Linked DNA regions of Homo sapiens: region 1 is linked to region 2. Evidence: fine-mapped expression QTL. Tissue or cell type: adrenal gland. Region 2 holds a variant in brackets; the other region holds the start of a gene. All regions are shown on one strand. Distances are from middle to middle.

Region 1 (4,398 bases), 240 kb after region 2:
CACTCCTCCTCTGATAGTAGAATATAGTGGCTTGACCTGTGGGCTCTGGAGTCAGGCTGCCTCTGAATTGGAATTCAGGCTGTGTGCCTTTCAGTGAGTACTTAACCTCTTTAGATTTCAATTTCTTCATCTGTGAAATGGAGATAATAAGGCCGGGGGCGGTGGCTCACACTTGTAATCCCAGTACTTTGGGAGGCCAAGGAAGGTGGATCCCCTGAGGCTAGGAGTTCGAGACTAGCCTGACCAACATGGTGAAACCCTATCTCTACTAAAAATACAAAAATTAGCTGGGCATGATGGCGCACGCCTGTAATCCCAGCTATTCTGGAGGCTGAGACAGGGGAATTGCTTGAACCTGGAAGGTGGAAGTTGCAGTGAGCTGAGATTGCTCCATTGCACTCCGGCCTGGGCAACAAGAGTGAAACTCCGACTCAAAAAAAAAAAAAATGAGATATTAATGATACCTACCTTACAGGTTTATTGAGAGGATTAAGTGAGTTAGTATAGAAATACAGTGTTTGGCCCATTGTAAACAGGCAAATATTAACTGCTGTTGCTATTTTATTATCTGATGAGGGTTGTTATCTTTGCTACTGTTTTCATTAAGAACTGGTTAGTTCTTCAAGAGAACGTGTTAGGTTATCATATGTTCCACATGAAGGTTTGATTTTCTTTGTTTTTTCTTGGCCACCTGCAGACCCATGGACTTAACTAGCCTGAAGAGAAATCTCTCTAAGGGTCGGATTCGCACCATGGCCCAATTCCTGCGAGACCTGATGCTGATGTTCCAAAATGCTGTAATGTACAATGACTCTGATCATCATGTATACCATATGGCTGTGGAGATGCGGCAAGAAGTCCTGGAGCAGATTCAGGTACTGTATGCAGATACCTGTAGCCTCTGGAATCTTGATTTCAGAACGCCTATGAGAATAAAGGTGATTTCGAGGTGACTGTGTTCTCAGAGTTTATTTTTAAAGGTGATTAAGGCCCTGAAGGATTGATAATGTGCCTGCTGGTTTGGAAAACCCTGAGCCTCAGTAAGTCCAGCTCTGATAGTGAAGTAGTCTAGGAATGCAGGCAGCAGTGAAGAGCTCTCAAGAGAGCTGAGGATAGACAAGTAATGGGAATTCCCGCTTCCAGAGCCTCAAGTCAAGGGCTAAACTCCAAAGAGGCTGGAGTCACTGTGTATTTTTTGGTTGCTTCATCTGTTGTTATTAATGTACGTTCACACTTTCCCATCTTTAGGGGATAAGATATAGTAGCTAGAAGACATTTGTGGGTTTCTTTTCTGGGTAGCATCATACTTTAAAGAAAAAAGTATAGTTGAGTCTATTTGCCAAAAAAATAAACTTGCAATACTTTAGTGTTTAAGGTTCATAATAGCTTGCTATGTGTTCCTTAACCCTTTAGGTACTGAATATCTGGTTAGACAAAAGAAAAGGCTCAAGTAGTCTGGAAGGAGAACCAGCTAACCCAGTGGATGATGGAAAACCTGTTTTCTAACCTGGAGCTGCTATCCTGACTTTTTCTAGAGTTTGAATCTCTCCCGGAACTCTGACCTAGAGAGGATCCTGGTACTTCTTTGCCATGTCCTCATTTTCTTTTCCAACAAGAATAATACCTTAACTCACAACCAACGAGTCAAAGATGCATGTGGACATAATATAAAGAAAAAAAGGGGAAGCTGAGGTTTGGATTTATGCCATAAATGTTGCCCACATCTTTGTTCCATCGGCTTGATTTAAAGACAATTCCATTAGATCTTTTCTAAGCCTTTTACTCTATAAATAAATGTATTTACACAATAGGAATATTGCTTTTTAATGACTAGATAAGCTGGGCATAGAGGGCACAGCATCATCTGGTGAAACGAAGGTATCTGACACGGGTCATTTACATATACCGCCTGGAAAGGAATGGTTGGGGGAGGGGTTCTTATCATTTATAGAGTAGGGATAATTGAAGCATCCTTCAAACGGGAAGAAGGATGAAATAAGATAAATTATGAGTAAAATGTCAGAAAACATCTAGTGCTCTAAGATTCACAAGGAGAATAAAAGTGACTGGCTGGCTCCCTTTGGTTAAAACGAACTGGCCAGAAGCTGCAAGGTTCCTTGCTGGGATTGGCTCTCTGCAGCCACCGTCCCCACGCTGGGGCTTCAGGTCTCCTAGCAACAAGTTGTACCATATGAGGACGGCCGCTGAGGTGAGTACTTAGAGAGGGTCAAATTCAGAATTTGCAGGTGCAACCCGGAAAGTCCCCGCGGACCTAGAGGCCCTGCTTTTCAATTAGCCTGACCCTATGCACAGAGAGGTCCCTGCGGGACAGGGTCGCTTCACAGAGGCAGCTGGCCGAGGCCGCTCACCCGCCGCTGTAATGGTGTGTGGTTGCCCACCAGCCACCGTCCCCTCGAGCCCCCACCACCCGCTCTACCGCCCCCTCGAGCCCCCACCACCCGCCCCACCGCCCTCTGCTGCCTGGGGCTGTTGCTGGTTCCAGGCCTTCGGGTCGCCCCTTGGCCTCTGGTTATGTGAGCCCATAGTCCTTCCTGCCTTGGTGACATCGTATACGAAAAGCCGGGGCTCGATTTGGACATAGTAGGAATCCTATTATTGAGACCCTGTATATAGAAAAACATGGCAGTTTCTACCTTCATCAGTTAATAAAATCAAGTACCTACTATTGCTATTCTTAATCATAATTACATTGAATTTGCGATGGGGGTGGGGGGAAATGCATGTCATTGCAGTTGATACCTGTTAAGAAACTCTTAATTTGTGCCCTGAAAAGCCATAATGGAGATATCAATGCCTCCACCTCAGATATATGTAGAAAAAACTCTGGCCATTATCAAACCAGATATTGTTGACAAAGAGGAGGAGATACAAGATATTATTCTTAGATCCGGATTCACCATTGTTCAGGTAACTTCTGGGTATGATGATTCATGCTTTTTTCCTCTCTGCCCTTAAAAAAAAAATGCTTATGTAAATGTGCCTACCCATTTAAACCCTTAGTGTTCAGCATTAAATTTAAGTTTATTCTTCTAAGTATAAAAGTTATATGTGATAGTTTTTAAAAGGATGTAAAATGAGAAATAAAATGGACTTTTCCTTCACCTGTCCTCTTTTACCCCAAGTCCCAGGCTCCAGAGAGAGGCAACCACTTAACACTTTCTGTTCTTCCAGGAGTTTTCTATGCATTTATAAACATTTTCCCCCCATAAAACAGAACAGTCCCTTTCCCTTGACCCCTTTACAGAGTCCCTCAGATAGGATTCCAGATCATTGCATCTGAATTGATCTCACTCTTCCTAATTTCTGTGTAATATTTCCCTGTGTATTAGAACTACAATTTATTTACTTGATCTTCTATTGATGGAATTTTAGGCTATTGGTACTTTTTTCAGTTATGGCATAACATTTAATGTTTTAAGCCTTATGTTCTGCAATTAGTAAACATTGTCATTCTAGGGGTTTGAAAGTGAATATAAATAGCATTGTTAAGGATAAATCAAATAGAATTGAATATTTTTAATCTTCCTCTTTTATAGTTTTTTTTTCTTTTTTTTGAGACAGAGTCTCCCTCTGTAGCCCAGACTGGAGTGCAGTGGTACGATCTCGGCTCACTGCAACCTCTGCCTTCCAGGTCCCGGTTCAAGCAATTCTCCTGCCTCAGCCTCCTGAGTAGCTGGGATTACAGGCATGCACCACCATGTCCAGCTAATGTTTGTATTTTTAGTAGAGACGGGGTTTTACCATGTTGGCCAGGGTGGTCTTGAACTCCTGACCTCGTGATCCACCCGCCTCGGCCTCCCAAAGTGCTGGGATTACAGGTGTGAGCCACTGCACCCCGCCTCTTTTACAGTATTCTCATTCGAACTTCCAATTTTTTATTTTCTCCCATTTATACAGTGTCATATTGCTTATTCAGTCAGTATTTTTAAAAATAAAGAGAAAATGGCGGGTACGGTGGCTCACGCCTGTAATCCCAGCACTTTGGGAGGCCGAGATGGGTGGATCATAAGGTCAGGAGTTTGAGACCAGCCTGGCCAATGTGGTGAAACCCCATCTCTATGAAAAATACAAAAATTAGCTGGGCGTGGTGGCGTGCACCTGTAGTCCCAGCTACTTGGGAAGCTGAGGCAGGAGAATCGCTTGAACTCAGGAGGCAGAGGTTGCAGTAAGCCAAGACTACGCCATTGTACTCCAGCCTGGGCAATAGAGGGAGATCTGTCTCAAAAAATAAATAAATAAATAAAGAGAAAATATCAATCTTCAGAAAAGATACGGAATTTCAGTTGAGCTTCAAAGGACAGGTGGAGTCCGAGAGTAGGGATGGCACAAGAAAGTGTTAGGAAGTATTTAATATGATTAAAGACTCAGGTAAATAAC
Region 2 (4,398 bases):
AAGTGCTGGAATTACAAGTGTGAGCCACTGCACCTGGCCTAATTTTTGTATTTTTTTAGTAGAGATGAGGTTTCGCCATGTTGGCCAGGCTGGTCTCGAACTCCGGACCTCAGGTGATCTGCCCACCTCGGCCTCCCAAAGTGCTGGGATTACAGGTATGAGCCACCACGCCCAGCCTCTAAACCTTTCATTCAAGAACTTTATCTGTTTGCTAAGTGTTGTTTTCTTTTGACTTTTTTTTTTTTTTTTAAGTCGGAGTCTTGCTCTGTCACCCAGGCTGGAGTGCAGTGGCACGATCTCGGCTCACTGCAAGCTCCACCTCCCAGGTTCACGCCATTCTCCTACCTCAGCCTCCAGAGTAGCTGGGACTACAGGTGCCCGCCACCGCGCCCGGCTAATTTTTTTTGTATTTTTAGTAGAGATGGGGCTTCACCATGGTCTCGATCTCCTGACCTCGTGATCCAGCCGCCTCGGCCTCCCAAAGTGTTGGGATTACAGGCGTGAGCCACCGCGCCTGGCCTTGATTTTTTTCTTCTTTTTTTTTGAGACGGAGTTTTGCTCTTGCCACCCAGGCTGGAGTGCAATAGCACAATCTCAGCTCACTGCAACCTCCGCCTCCTGTGTTCAAGCGATTTTCTTGCCTCAGCCTCCCAAGTAGCTGGGATTACAGGTGCCCGCCACTACGCCCAGCTAATTTTTGTGTTTTTTAGTAGAGACAGGGTTTCATCATGTTGGCCAGGCTGTTCTCAAACTCTGACCTCAGGTGATCCACCTGCCTCGGCCTCTTTTGATTTTTAAAAGCTTTTAAATTCTTTCTCAATCTCTATCACCACCCAGTTTTCACTGTTGCAGATCACAATCAGTGAACTCTGTTCTTTCTTGTTCATTCACCCATACTTAAAGGAGATGAGGTGATCATGGATCTCTAAAAAGGGTTACTATAAAACTTGGCAGAACTATAAAAAATAATTGGACTCTGCTAGCAAAGAAAACAGTAATATCATGTTAATACCAAAAAAGGAAGACCCAACATCTGCTGCTAAAAACCAAAGATCACCAGGCGTGGTGGTTCGTTCGCGCCTGTAAACCCAGAACTTTGGGAGGCCAAGGTGGGCGGATCACGAGGTCAGGAGTTTGACACCAGCCTGGTCAATATGGTGAAACCCTGTCTCTACTAAAAATACAAAAATTAGCTGGGCATGGTGGTGTGCGCCTGTAGTCCCAGCTACTCAGGAGGCTGAGACAGAAGAATCACTTGAACCCGGGAGGCGGAGGTTGCAGTGAGCCAAGATCACCCCACTGCACTCCAGCATGGGTGACAGAGCAAGACTCCATCTCAAAAAAAAAAAGAAAAAAACAAAAACAAACATCCCACCTATAAGTCATCCAGCCAACTTGCAGAGCCTGGCTCACAGCAACATACTACCAGTCCCTAAACAACTTATATGTAAGTCCTACTTACAGTGAGCTACTCATACGTGAGTAAGCAGCCTACAACATTGAGACCAGTACTCCCCAGTTCTATTTGGCCAGCTGAACAGTACCTGGCATACAATATATGCTTAATGAAGGAATGAAATAAGGAAAGGAACAAAAAAGGGGACCAATACACGATCAAAGTAGCAGGTGTTTTTGGCATGCAAACACAGTCAAGAGACTTACCCTGTTTGTGGTAATATTACATGTAGTAAACAGTTCTTAAATTTAACCCTGGCCAGGTGCAGTGGCTCATGCCTGTCATCCCAGCACTTTGGGAGGCTTAGGTGAGAGTTTGAGACCAGACTGGGCAAGATAGCGAGACCCTGCCTCAAAAAAAAAAAATTTTTTTTCTTTTCCTATTCTGATCTTGTTTTAGGAAGTCAAGAATGACTGGATAAAGATGAGGAAAGACTATATACTTAGCAGGAGTGGCAACGACAGCAATATTACAGAGGTGCCAAGATACTGTGAGGAATATGTGGACAGCTGGTCAACTGAAGGAAATTCACACAGAATTACTCGATTGGTTCAGGCAGAGATTTTTATTTATTTACTTTTTTTTTTGAGACGGAGTCTTGCTCTATCACCCAGGCTGGAGTGCAATGGTGCGATCTCAGCTCATTGCAACCTCCACGTCCCAGGTTCTAGCGATTCTCCCACCTCGGCCTCCCGAGTAGCTGGGATTACAGGCACCCACCATCAGGCCTGGCTATTTTTTTTTTTGTATTTTTGTAGAGACAGCGTTTCACCACGTTGGTCAGGCTGGTCTTGAATTCCTGACCTCAGGTGATCCGCCTGCCTC[G/A]GCCTCCCAAAGTGCTGGGATTACAGGCGTGAGCCACTGCACCTGGCCCAGAGAGCTTTAATGTATCTTTTTTGGGGCTATATTAATTCTGAATAAACCAAGAGTTGGGCTGGTTCATAACAATTATGGAGTAACCAATGCACTGGGGGCTGAGCACTGAACTAGGTACCAGCTTGAATTGATTCTACTTGGGAATACAGAATTTCAGACTCCGTTGGAGCTCACTGCCACCGAATGGAAAAAAAAAAAAAGTGGACGTAGTTTATCCTTCACTTCTTGTTACTTGGTAGATCACGAGTATTACTACTGCTTATTGCACTTTTAACTGACTACTATATCTTTCAAATATACCTGTCCTGACAGAATATAGGAAGAAACCAGCCTTGCACTTTAGAAGAACTAGGGAACATAGTCATGCTTAAAAGGGTTTGCTCAAACTAGGTCTCTTTCTTGAGAATATCCCCCCTTAATTAGACAGACTGTGGAGAGAGCAAAAAAATGTACAGTGGCTAAAGCTGAACAACTCAAAAGGCATCCATGGAAAACACATATATAAGGGATCTACACACAGCAAGATAATGCAAGCTCATGAGTCTGCTCAGGAATGCAGTCCATTACTGTACCTCGCTTTGAGGCGCTGAATTATCCATCAGCATCACATGGATTAGTCTGGGATCTACCGACTTGATCTCACCACTCTACAGTAGGAGGGGAAAAAGATATTTAATGCCTTGTCCATAAAGACATAATTATATAATTTCCTAATCAATGTAATTATCTCTTTATTGATTCAACTCACCTACTAGAATGAAAGCTCCATGAGAGCAGAGATCTCTACTGTCTCATTTACTGCTACAACAGGTCTAGAATATGGTAAGCATTCAAATATTTAAGTGAATGAATGAAAGAAGTGAATTCATGTCCAACTGTGTCTTTTAGCGATGTTAATTCTGAATCCTGTATCTCTAAAACTGTCCTATTCTGTATAGTATGAAACAAAAAACCTTCAGAACCAATAATCATTAAAAGAATCACTCTAGGGCTGGGTGCGGTGGTTCACATCTGTAATCTCAGCATTTTGGGAGGCCAAGGTGGGTGGATCACCTGAGGTCAGCAGTTCAAGACCAGCCTGGCCAACATGGTGAAACCCTGTTTCTACTAAAAATACAAAAAATTAGCTGGGTGTGGTGGCGTGTCTGTAATCTCAGCGAATCAGGAGGCTGAGGCAGGAGAATTGCTTGAACCTGGGAGGCGGAGGTTGCAGTGAGCCGAGATCGTGCCATTGCACTCCAGCTTGGGCAACAAAAGCAAATCTCTGTCTCAAAAAGAAAAAAAAAAAAAAATCACTCCAGGCTGGGCATGGTGGATCATGCCTGTAACCCCAGCACTTTGGGAGGCTGAGGCAGGAGGACCAGGAGTTCGAGACCAGCCTGGGCAACACAGTGAGACTCTGTTTAAAAAAGAATCATTCTACTATTAAAGAATAAAAACTCAGTGGGGGGCAATTTGATAGAAAATTTCAAATTTATTGTGCATATTCTTTGACCTAGCAATTATACATATAAATTTATTCCAATAAATAATGTAAAAAATGTTCAAGGATGTTCACTGTGACATATTAGTGAAAATATTGGCAATGATTTAAATGTCTATCAATTTTAGATTAGTCATGATATATCCATGTAGTGGAAAAGAACGCATCTATTTTAAAGGATGAGACAGATCTTTACATTTACATACAAAAATGCTCACTATATACAATTAAGTAAAAAAGGTAAATTATATAACTATATGTACTATATGATCTTATTTGTTACTAAAGTGTGACTTATATAATTATAGAGCATATAAATTATATATATCATATAAATTATATATCATATAACTCATATATATCATATAAATAAATATAATATAATAATATTCTGGCCGGGTGCAGTGGTTCATGCCTGTAATCCCAACACTTTGGGAGGCTGAGGTGGGCGGATCACTTGAGCTCAGGAGTTTGAGACCAGCCAGGCAACATAGCAAGACTCCTTCTCTACAAAAAATAGAAAAATTAGCTAGGTGTGGTGGCACACGCCTGTAGTGCCAGCTACTCCAGAGGGTGAGGTGGG

Alleles and levels. Positions count from the first base shown, and alleles are read on the strand shown. Sizes are in standard deviations (SD) of each study's normalised expression.
As copies of A replace G in region 2, the expression in adrenal gland of the gene that starts at base 2,152 in region 1 goes down (large effect, 1.5 SD a copy in GTEx).

The links. PIP is the estimated chance that this variant, and not a neighbour inherited with it, causes the effect. A credible set is the group of variants that fine-mapping cannot tell apart.
Region 1: NME5 starts here. The variant in region 2 is the best candidate, but not a certain one, in a credible set for the expression of NME5 in adrenal gland (GTEx, PIP 0.68).

Annotation. Positions count from the first base shown.
Region 1 is chr5:138,137,182-138,141,579 of GRCh38, reverse strand. It overlaps NME5 (NME/NM23 family member 5), which reads left to right and starts at 2,152. Exons shown (of 6, transcript NM_003551.3): 1 at 2,152-2,209; 2 at 2,795-2,928. The coding sequence starts at 2,800. It overlaps BRD8 (bromodomain containing 8), which reads left to right. Exons shown (of 27, transcript NM_139199.2): 26 at 698-875; 27 at 1,414-1,810. The coding sequence ends at 1,506.
Region 2 is chr5:138,380,097-138,384,494 of GRCh38, reverse strand. KDM3B (lysine demethylase 3B) reads right to left here. Exons shown (of 24, transcript NM_016604.4): 6 at 2,905-2,979. Among named protein-coding and RNA genes, the nearest start is that of KDM3B, 30 kb to the right of the region's middle. The variant G/A (reference allele first, on the strand shown) is at 2,282.